3 linked regions of the Homo sapiens genome follow. The protein of the gene in region 1 interacts with the protein of each later gene in a pairwise test. Each region holds a gene or a part of one and is shown on either strand. Other genes may lie near its edges. The genes, in order: PELI1, RIMS4 and INPP5J.

Evidence for each region.
Region 2: the proteins of PELI1 (region 1) and RIMS4 interact in binary tests that used the Homo sapiens proteins (3 or more experiments, as listed by UniProt).
Region 3: the proteins of PELI1 (region 1) and INPP5J interact in binary tests that used the Homo sapiens proteins (3 or more experiments, as listed by UniProt).

Annotation. Positions count from the first base shown.
Region 1 is NC_000002.12:64,142,723-64,146,468, forward strand, and holds the start of PELI1 (E3 ubiquitin-protein ligase pellino homolog 1), read right to left. Parts: upstream 1,699-3,746; 5' UTR 1,359-1,698; intron 805-1,358; exon of another isoform or gene 596-804; intron 1-595. UniProt on the Homo sapiens protein: E3 ubiquitin ligase catalyzing the covalent attachment of ubiquitin moieties onto substrate proteins. Involved in the TLR and IL-1 signaling pathways via interaction with the complex containing IRAK kinases and TRAF6.
Region 2 is NC_000020.11:44,808,573-44,812,318, forward strand, and holds the start of RIMS4 (regulating synaptic membrane exocytosis protein 4), read right to left. Parts: upstream 1,975-3,746; 5' UTR 1,700-1,974; coding exon 1,603-1,699; intron 1-1,602. UniProt on the Homo sapiens protein: Regulates synaptic membrane exocytosis.
Region 3 is NC_000022.11:31,121,026-31,124,771, forward strand, and holds the start of INPP5J (phosphatidylinositol 4,5-bisphosphate 5-phosphatase A), read left to right. Parts: upstream 1-1,940; 5' UTR 1,941-1,989; coding exon 1,990-2,094; intron 2,095-2,870; exon of another isoform or gene 2,871-2,980; intron 2,981-3,116; exon of another isoform or gene 3,117-3,238; intron 3,239-3,746. UniProt on the Homo sapiens protein: Inositol 5-phosphatase, which converts inositol 1,4,5-trisphosphate to inositol 1,4-bisphosphate.

The sequences.
Region 1 (3,746 bases):
ATAAAGTGAACCTTTACCACAATTAAAATATTTTAAATTCACCCTATTATGAAAACTTAATAATAAATTCATTTATCCTTAAGTGTAAGAGTAATACATATTCGACACAGTAAAGGACAATGCCATTTCTGAAACAAAAGATCATGTGCAATGAAAACAAAGTAACATTTTGCAGAGTAAGAAAAAGTAAAGAGCCTGTGAACCGAAACAGATGACCTTTTCTTATATATAAAGCTTCAGTTTTTAGCACAACCAGCACCTTATGAATAAAGTTCTCAATAACATTTGTTGATATACTGTTTGATGACTAAACGACAGGAATATTGTTGGTGCTGTTAAAACCAAGGCACATTTCCTTGTGTGTAGTGATTAAAATCTGTTAAATGTACATTTTTAAAAAACCTCTGCCCTCTGTCCCCTTCTTGCTCTCTTGCCTCTAACAGACCTGCACGTACAAAAATAAAAGTAGATGGTGACGTGAGTTTATGATTTACATTAATTTCCCTACTCGGAGCATTTTTCACTAAGTCTTTAGAGGTTTTAAGATTCAAACACTATGTAAGAAGAATTATGGTTTGAACTACGTAACAATTACCTAGACATCTTTTGGACTTCAGTTAACCTGTAAGTAAAATGAGCATCTTTAACTTTTCCACGGGGCTTTGGAGAACGGGTTCTTCCTCATAAACGCTTTCATATACTCAGACACGAGGCGCGGTAGAAGATCAAGCGTATCCATCAATTTGAGAGCTTTTCACGACCTCAGTTTACCCACTTAGGGAAACGGGCGTATTAACTTGTTTCCTAGGGGACCCGGGGGTGAAATTAATTAGCGTGTTTAAAATGCTCTGAGATCCAAAGATGAAAGGAAATGTGAAAGACGCGCAGAGATGATGACAACAATCATAACAATAAAAAGAATGACTAACTTGAAGTCTGCGTTATGTAAGGGAGGAAAAGAAGTTATCAGATCCGCACAAACAAAAGGGAAACCCACCGCCCCTTTTGTTTCTCCCATTTCCCTCTCCTCCCCGCCACCCGCAGAGCTCCCCTCTCGCAGCCGGAGCGCGCGGCCAGCCAGGCGCGGGGCTCGGAGTTGGCCGCCGCGCGCCCCGCTCCCGGGCGGAGGGGGAGGCCGCGTAGGGCCGGTTCCTGACAAAGGCGCTTCCTCGAGCCAGGGCGCGGGATGCAGGCGCCGCAAACTCCGCTCCCCGCCGCAGCGGGGGCGCGCAGGCGGGCGGGGAGAGCCGGCTGCTGGCCGCCGGGGAAGCCGCCGAGGAAGTTGCGCGCCCGCCCTCCCCGCGCCCCTCGGCGGCCCCGCCGCCATCCATCCCGCGGCGCCCCGCGGTCACACTTACCGGACAATTGCTGGTGGCCGGGATCCCAGAGCGGCCCCCGAGACCCGAGGCGAGAGGGTGAAGTGTTGTGCGCGGGGAGCGCGAGCAGACAGCCCGCCGTTCCGCCGCTGCCCTCCGCGCCCGCCAGCCGAGCCCAGCGAGGGGAAGTTGACCACGGAGCCGAGCGCTGAGGAGCCGCGGACGCAGGGAGAGGCGTTGGGGCTGCTTTGTGGTGCGCTCCCGGAGGGCTGGGGACCAATTCGACCGCACCGCGGGACTAGGGCTGCTGCCGCTGCTGCTAGTGGAGGCGGCGGCGGCGCCCCCCGACGGTCCCTCCGCCTCACACCGCCTCTGGGTCACTGACATACACTCGCAAGGAGGGGAGGGGTCTAGCCGGGGGGCGGGGCCTGAGGGAGGGGACCGGGCAGGGCCACAGCGGAAGGCGGTGTCGCCGCACCGAGAAGGCTCTTGGGAATTGTAGTTCTCCGGTTGAAGAAAAAAGGGATTCATTGTTGTCCAGCACCCTACCAGGCTCGCTCTGCACTGAGCATGCTCGAGGGCGAGGTTTGGACCGCCCCCTCCCACCGTTACCATGGTCACCGACACACTTAGCGAACGTGTTCAGTGCTGCTGTTGGCTGAACAAGGACGGTCTTGTATTATGGTGTTGTTGGGGATCCAACCCTTAGACGGTCCTTCCTACTTTTCTCCACCTCCAACTCCTAGCCTTACCAGTCATAAGTACCCAGTGAGGTCTGACTTTCTCTCCATATTTCAGTCTTCCCTGCTGCGTAATTTATCTTCCACAAACCCTAAATCACAAATACCTCTGTCCCTCACTTCCCTCAATTGAATCTTCTCCGGCTAAATTCAATTTTCTTTACCTAAGACTTGTCGAAATGTAGTTGTTTCCAGTAATTGAACAATTAGGTTATAAAACTTAGGAATATCACCACTATCAAAGTCCCGTAATTAATTACTTTGCTCAGTTAGTCACATCTAACTTTAAGATTAGCAAAGGCAAAGTACAGAATTAAGACCCCTATATTTTACTTGATTACTATAAAAGAATCCGGGTTCGTTCATTTTAAGGCCTACAATTTTTAAGACATACAAATTTCATAAAGTATACGTTCAAAAGACAAGTTGAAAATTGTTTATGTGTATTGGCCAACTTTAGTTTGGTAATAAGAGAAGTCTGAACCAAGGTATGAGTATGTTGTTGGGCTGGTCAGCTAAGTCTACACCCATCTTGGGCACCCAGGTGTGGAAAGGTGGTAGGGAGGAGGGTGGAGAAAGGCAGGACACATTACTGGCTCTCCGGAGAGCTAAAGGCAACGCGTCCTGAGCGCTTTTGTTTTCCTTCTCCACCTACCTAGAACCCCACACCCTGGAAGAAAAAGATTAATGCTTAGGAATCAGACACACTTTTGGAGCAAGGCTTTCAGAGAGTCTCAAGATCAGAAATCCTTATATCTACAGACTATATAATTATACACTCATTCAAAAAATGCTTGTTGAGTGTCTACTTGTGCTAGGCACTGTTTTGAGCCCCAGAAATAGAGATACAAAAATGTAAAAGAAACATTCTTATTTTCAGAGTGCTTACTATGCAAAGGAGGAGACAGGTAAATAGACTTAATTTGAGAAGTACTACAATAGGAAAATGCAAAGCTACCCACAGATGTGGGCAAAATCAGGAAATGCTTCAAAGATCACTTGAGATAACTAGGAATTAACATGTTTGTGTATTTTGGTAGGGGAGGAGGAAGAGAGAGGTGGGTGAGAGCATTGGGGGTGGTGTTGGGGAGAGCATCAAGCACAAATACCTAAAGGTGTGAGACCCAAACGTATTTTGGTTCAGCAAATAGTTGCATTGCTGGCAGTAGAATGGAGTTGGGGGAGTGGCAAGAGGAGACACTGAAAAAGGTAAGGGAGACAGCTTAGGTAATGAAGAATCTTGCACAATATGCTAAGGAACATGAACCTTTTCCTGGAAACAATGGGAAGCCACACAAGGATTGTAAGCAGATGGAATTTTGATAAGATAGGCATTTTAGAAAGATCACTCTATGGAGTGTGGTATGTATGGGACCTGTTACAGTATTACAGGGGAAAAAACCATGAGAGACTGAACTAAGGTAAGGCAGTGGCAGAAGAGAAAACTGAGGGTAATCAGACACTATTCAGGGGATAGAATATAGAACATAGTGACTAATTGCCTAGGTTTGGGGGTGAAGGGAAAAGTAAAGTTATGAATTATGATGCTTGTGGTTGAAAGCAGCAGAAAACCCAGCTCTAACTGGCTTAACCAATAAAGGAGATTTATTGAACCATCTAGCTAGAAAGTTCAGGAAAAAGGCAGTCTATAGGGATGACTGATTCAACAAATCAGAGATGTCATTAAAGG
Region 2 (3,746 bases), on another chromosome or scaffold:
CAGAAGTTAAACCTCTGAGCCTCAGTTGTTTTTTTCTGTAAAATGGTGATTATAAAAATGGTAAAATGTCTCTGCAGTAATCATCTTTACCCTTACCCCCATCCCCACCTCCAGGTCAATAGAAAGACAGGTCTATTGGGGATCTGCCTCACCTATCCCCATTCATTCACCAGTCAACAAATTCTTCTGGAGAAAGGGCAGGAAGACATGCCCACCACTTCATCCCATGATGGAACCTTGGTGGCCAGGTTGATCAGACAAGGGTCCCCAAAGACTAAGTCTAAACCTGGGCCCAGGAACTTCCTAAAACCGTAGGCTACATTTTGTGGATGGTGCATATATGCACTTCGGGAGAGATAGTCCATGTTTTCCTCAGAGACTTGAAAGTGCCCATGAAACCATTTTGCTCCTCAAGCACATACACTCCTCCAGCACATACACTCCTCTGTTTTGTTCCCCCATTGAATTCAAAGACTCTCGGATTTTCACCTTATAAAACACTGAACTCCACCCTCACACCATACAGAGCTTTGCATCGATACGATGATCCCCATTTCAGAGATGAGGAAATCCAGGCTCAGAGGTGGCATGACTTGCCCAAGGTCACAGCTAAGAAGTAGAGAATGAAGACTGGAACCTGATTCCGATTCCCAATCTGGCATTCTTTGGGGAACTCTCACCCAAGCCCTCTAGCTACCCCACCTGTTGGTGGATTCCCTTCCTCACCCCAGAACCAAATCCGGAGCTCTCATGTTCCTTCTGCCGGGTCCCAGGGCCCTAAAGAGTAGGTTTCCCTACAGCTCCCCACCCCTCGCTCTGGCTGAGGTTGTGCGCAGGCCTGGGAGGAGGAGGTTCAAGCCGCTGGCTGGTGGCCGGCTTCAGCCCACCAAGAAAGGCGACTCCAGGGACAAGAGCACCTGAGGTCAGGGGCACACACCAGCGGGCGGACAAGTGTAGAGTTGGCGCCGCCCTACACCTCTCTCCGGGAAGAGAGGGGAGGAAAGGCCGTCACCTGGCCGGTTCCCCTCCGTCTGCCCCAGGCGTATAAGAAGCAGGAGTCTGGAGCCCCAGCCCATGAGGGAAGGAGAGGAGAGATAAATGGGGGCGCTCAAGGCCTGGGGCGCCGGGCAGGGGTCTTGGGCAGGGATCCTCTGGATGTGGCCAAGACAAAGATGGAGAGGTAAGGTCTGCGCGCCACCTCCAATGGCGGGGGGCGCGTCGGAGCCCCAGGGGTGGGACGGCCAAAGCCCAGGGCTTGAAGAGTGGGCACATTCAGGAGACTCAGGGAGGGTGGCAGGTCGGCTCCAGGGACGAGGCAAGGGGCCTCCAATAGGCGCGGGTGAGGAGGGAGATGGGTCCTGGCGACCCAAAGGGCCCACCTGCGGGAAAGGTGAATGCAGACAATCTCGGGGTCCCTGGGGGAGAAGGCCAGAAGGTAGCGCATCCTGGAGACCCTGGGGTCCCGTGGGTGCGGAAGGAGACCCTGGGGGCGCCTTCCCAGGGGATTGGGGGTGGGGAGGAGGGCGCACGGGTCGGGGAGGGGGCTACCGGACCTGGATCCCGGGACACCCCGGGGGTCTGGGGGGCGGGCCGCGCGCTTACCTGCGTCCTCGTCGTCGAAGGAGTTCATGCACGGGAAGTAGATGGCGAGCGCCTCGAAGGAGGCGGACAGACTGAGGCGGCTCTGCGAGCGCTCCATGCCCGCGCCGGCGCCGGGCGCCTCGGCCGCGGCGGCGGCGGCGGCGGCGGGCGGCTTGGGCAGCTTGGCCGCCCCATTCTTGACGCGGAGTACGGCGCGCGGCGTGGTGGCGGCGGCCCGGGGCCGGGCCGAGGCTCCGCTGCGGGGCTGGCGGGCGCGGCGGGGCCGGCGGGCGGGCCAGGAGCTGGCGGCGCGCGGAGCCCGAGGCGCGCTGTGCTGCTGGCGGCGGCGGCGGCGGCGGCGGTGGCGGCGGCGGTGGCGGCGCAGCGCGCTCTGGTCCGCGGCGCCCCCCGCCGGCAGCGCGAGGCGGGCTTGGAGCGGCGCCGCAGCCAATCCGTGCCGCCGGGGGAGGGGGCGCCGCTGCGGGGCGTGGGAGCCCGGAGGGCGCGGGCTGCGGCCTCTTCTAGCAGCCCCCGGGCCCGGCAGGTGCGCGCGGGGAGGCAGGCGCCGGGCGAGGTTGTCTGGGCCCTGGTCCGAGGGCTGTTCCCGACCCCGCCTCGGCCCCCACCCTCAGCCGGCCGACTTGCGGAGAGGCCGGCGTCCAGTCCCTCACCCAGACAGGCCTCTCCCAGAGACACTGGCGCGCTCGGAGGGGATGCGCTCAAAGGGTCCCGCCCAGGCGGGTCGGCACTCGGCCTCCCACACAGAGACCCTCGGCTTCACACCTGCACCCACAGAGAAGCTCAAACAGGCACCCACACCTACACATTCACTCTGCAACATGCCCCGCAGACACCCGGACAGATACACCCACAGACCCACCCCCTCACAGATGCGGGGACAGACACGTCCACGGACACACGCAGACTCACGCAGAGACCTGCAAACACACTCAGGGAGGTAGGCAGGACATCCCTGGTGCCCGGCCTCCCTCACGGGGAGACTCTCAGATGCCACAAAACCCCACGAAGTTCAGGTAGGCATACACAGTCTCATGCATTCACACTTACCAAAGACACCCCAGAATTCATACACACATTCATACACTCAGATGAACACACAAGCCCAGACCCAGCACACACTCTGTGTCGCCTCCCCCTGTGATCATCTCAGCACTGTCAAACACTCTGACTGACACGGCCAGATGCACACACCTTCACCCTCAGACACACTAGAGTAGCACACACACGCCAAGACACAGCCACACAGACTCCATCCCTCCCAGTGTGGGTGCATCCCGACGGATTGACTGACACCCTCAGACTCAGGTACACTGAGACACACTTGGCAGGCTCACACTCACAGACTCTCCCATTATCACCCTCGGCGACCCGCAGTCCTCAGACACACACGGGCTCAGACACTCACAGCCCCAGGACAGAGACGAGCGAATCGGAAACCCGTGTTCCATTCCCTGCATGTGACCTGGGACGTGAGGGTCCCTGCCCACCTAATCAGGCCCCAGATGTCAAACAACCTTCTCAGCTGCTCGCACACCTCTTTATGAAGCCATCTGGCGACATGGAAACAGTTCAGGCCTCAGAAAGAGACAGCCCAGAGTTTGAATCTCAGCTGTGGTGCTGTCTTTCTGGGTGGCCTATGGCAAAACTCTTTATCCCATGGGTCCTGTTCCTCATCTGTACAATGGGGACAGGAGCCTTCCATTTTGGATGGTTGTGAACTGCCTGTAAGATAACACAGGTGTTTGTTTTCTATTGCTGCATAACAAATGAAGCAGCTTAAAAACACCAATCTAGTGATTTACAATCCTGTAGGTCAGAAGTCTGGGCAGCCTGAGCTGGGTTCTCTGCTTAGGGCCTCACAAAGTATTGGCCAGACTGGGCTCTTCTCTGCAGGCTCTGGAGAAGAATCCGCTTCCAAGATCATTCAGGTTGTTGGCAGGATTCAGTTCCTTGTGGTTGCAGGACTGAGGTTCCTGTTTCCTTGCTGGCTGTCAGCCAGAAGTCAACCTCAGCTCCTAGAAGTGGCTTTCTGGTCCTTTCACCTGGCCCCTTCCACCTTCAAGGCCAGTTTCAGGATGTCAAGCCCTTCTCATCCTTCAGTAGAATCTTTCTACCTTGGCTTCTGCTTACTGGCCTGAGAGATT
Region 3 (3,746 bases), on another chromosome or scaffold:
TTTCTTTTTTCTTTTCTTTCTTTCTTTTTTTTTTTTTTTTTGAGACAGGGCCTCTCTCTGTCACCCAGGCTGGAGTGCAGTGGTACGATCTTGGCTCATTGCAACCTCCACCTCCACCTCCCAGGTTCAAACAATTCTCCTGTCTCAGCCTCCCAAGTCGCTGAGACTACAGGCATGTACCACCACACCCGGCTCATTTTTATATTTTTAGTGGAGATGGGGTTTCGCCATGTTGACCAGGCTGGTCTCGAACTCCTGACCTCAGGTGATCTGCCCACCTCAGCCTCCCAAAGTGCTGGGATTACCCGCACTTTGCCAGTACTCCCCCAGCCCGGGGGCTCCCATTTTCTTATTTGTAAAACAGGAGACAGAGGATAAGACAGGATGAGTTCGAATCTTCCTTTTTCTGGTAACCTGAGCATCACCACCAGGTCTACTCTCACATCCTCCCTGACTGTCACCTCCAACTCCAACACTACCTCTTTCATTGACACAACACCATCATCAGTATTGGTATCATCATCACCTCTACCTTTGCCATCACCATCACCTCCACCACCTTCACCACAACCACTGCTAGCCCCCTACTTCCATCATCACAGTTACATACATCATCACATCCATCACCACAGTCGCCTTCCCCGTCACCACTGTCACCATCTCCACTATCGCTGTCCAAAGACCTTTCTACCCCAACACTCTAATATGGCCTGAGTCTCTGCCCCTGCAAATTCCAGCAGAGATGCTGGCCTGAGAATACAGACTAGACCTACTGACAGTCAAGCAGAGGTAGGAAGTGCCTTCAGGAGAGGAAAGTGAGGCATCTGCCTTCATGTAGGAGACTGCACAGGCCCATGCAGATGCTCCATGTTGGTTAACAGGGAGCTCTGCACACACAACTCTGAACACTTTCTGCCTAAAGTGGGTGGGATCACTCCTCTCTAAGCCATGAGAAACAGATCCCACAGCCATCCCAGCCCAATCTGACCCTCATCACCCATTCACTCTTCTAATTCATTTATTCATTCAACAAACACTCCCGTAGGCCTGTTGGGGACCATGTCCTGGGCTGGGTCCTGGCTGTAGCAATTCTCAGGCCTGTTTGTAACTCTCTTGTCAGTCTGTTACCCCACTGCTGGGCCCTTCTCCACCCAAGTTCCCTTCCCCCAGATAGCTCGAAGGGCTTGTGCTCATCCTAGGTCACTAAGTTTTCTCACTGAAACACAGGAGACCTTCTCAGTTCACCAGGTGACCTTGAGCAAGTTCCCCTCCCAAACCACACCCAGTGAATACTGGAGAGAAGAAAGCTGACAGAAGCCGGGCTGGGTTAGGCCTGGCTGTGGGGACATCTGAGGGCAGCTAGGTGTCTGCAGAAGAGGAGGGGCTGGTGCTGAGGCCTGAGATGGGAAAAGACTGCAGTGGCTGGAGCCTGAGTGTCTGGTTCTGGGTTGGGAAGAATAGAGCCTGGGACTGGCAGTAGGAGTGGAGAGGGTGGCACCAAGACCTGAAAATGGGGCAAGGGTGGGGGCCGGGGCAAGCTCTGAGCTGGCAGGGAGCCAGGAAGGTCACAGGATCAGGGCAAGAACTCAGTTGTCTCTGAGGCCCTGGAGAGGGTGCAGACCTCTGAACCACCTGTCCTACCTTAAGGCAGGTGTGTTAATGCCCCTCCCTGGAGCAAAGGGCTGACCAGGCCTACGGCAGAAAGGTGAAGGTAGACAGACAGCCTCCTTCCTGCTGCCAGTTGGGACCTGGGCCAGGCAGATGGGTACACTCTCCCCTCCCCACTCCATGGCTGTTCCAGCCTCAGCAGCCAGTTTGAAGGATTCCCAGGGGGTAGCCACCTTGCTTCGGCCTCTTCCAGGCTGGGAAGTGGGAGCCTGTGCCTTTAAATTCTCAGCAGGTTGAAATGGCTGATGACATCACTGGTTCCCGGGAGCGGTAGAGCTGGAGCCGGAGCCAAGGGAGTCCAGGCTGCCGGGGGCTGCAGACATGGAGGGCCAGAGCAGCAGGGGCAGCAGGAGGCCAGGGACCCGGGCTGGCCTGGGTTCCCTGCCCATGCCCCAGGGTGTTGCCCAAACTGGGGCACCCTCCAAGGTAAGACCCCTGAGACCCAGTGCCCCCCGCTTTCCTGATCCCTGGTTCCACACACCCCCCCCACATACACTGCAGGCTCCCTGGTGCTCCTGACTGAGGGGCTGGTACTTTCCTCTGCTCAGCGAGCAGGGGCTAGGTGAAGAGAGCACCCTGGGGGCTGAGGGGCAGTGACAGGATGCCCGGAGACAGATGAAGTTAGCCATCTCCAGGAGCCCTTGGGAGAGTCCTGGACTGGGTATCAGAGGACCCAGCTGTGCTCCACCTTTGCTGTGTGACCTTGGCCAAGTTGCTTTTCCTCTCTGAGCCAATGCAAAATGAGGGGGCTTGTCGCTGAAGACTAAAACTGTGACATCTGGGATGGCTAAGTTGTTAGTACTGGAGGCGGTGTGATAGTTGGGGGGAAGCCGGCACACAGTGTGACACTTGGAGCCAAGGAGGGTGCCTAAAATGCCACCTCAAAGAACTGAGTTTGAGAAGGGAGGTGGAGATGGAGTTTTAGGTACTCTGAACTGAGAAGGATACGGGACAGAAACAGAAGTGCGTCTCCAGAGGCAGGGCCTCCCTGCGCCCTGTTACCCTACCTAGGGCCATCCTGGGGCAAGTATAGACATTCTTCTGCCCTCCTTGGTGAAGGACACTTTATCCTGTCTTCTGGAGACAGGGGACATCAGAGAGAATAGATGGGGAAGGAGGATAGGTCTCTACAGGACTCCGTGACTCCCCACCCCTCCCACCTGCCGGACATAAATGGGATACCTGCTTGCCTGTCCTTTCAGGTAGGGGAGAAAGTGGAGGATGTAAGAGGGCACAACCTGGGCACAGAGAGATGTGACACCAGGATCAACTTAGAATCCTGGACTTGCTCTGAATGCTAGATTCACACTTGGTGAGGATGGACTATTCAACGGGGCTAGATGGAATTCTAGCAAATGTTGGGCTCATAAATGCAGACAATGGGAGATGAAGATTCCCCAGAATATAATGTGGCCAGGAACCCTAGACCCCATCCCTTCATTTTACAGACAGAGAAACTGAGGCGCTGGGCAGAGAGGTACTTGCCTAAGGTCACACAGAGCTGGGCTTTGAATCTACACAGCCAGTCTCAGCTCCCAGCTCTTGCTCCTGAGTGGAGCTCTGGGAATGGGTAAGAGAACAGAGAGGGCTGTAACCAAGGGATTTGGATGTTTAGGGGGCGGTGGGGAACTGAGGGTTTCTGGGCATTATGAAGGAAGGGAGAGGTATTTAACAAGCTGCACCTGTAGGTCTGTATCTTGACAATAGAAAAAGAAAAGAAACAGGCTGTCCCCAGTGTGCCCAGACCTGGGATGTCAGGTCAGTAGCCGTGGCTGGGGGAGCTTCAGGGACTGCAGTGGGAGGGTTGCCCAGGGAAGCTGCCCCGAATGGGCAGGGTGTGGGTGCCAGCCAGGAAGGCAAGGCAAGTCCTCAGGTTTAGGTTCACACTCTGCCTCATTTGAGTCAGGGTCTGAGTTTCCCCATCTGTGAAAGAGGTTTCAGACTTAAAGGAGGGGTTAGGGTTTTGTGTCCTATCTCCTCCAAGACAGAAGTTGACCTGCAGCAGAATAGATTGAAGTGAGATAGTAGGAAGAACTTCCTTGGAAAGATGTGCCTTTCTTAGCTAGATGAACTCTGCC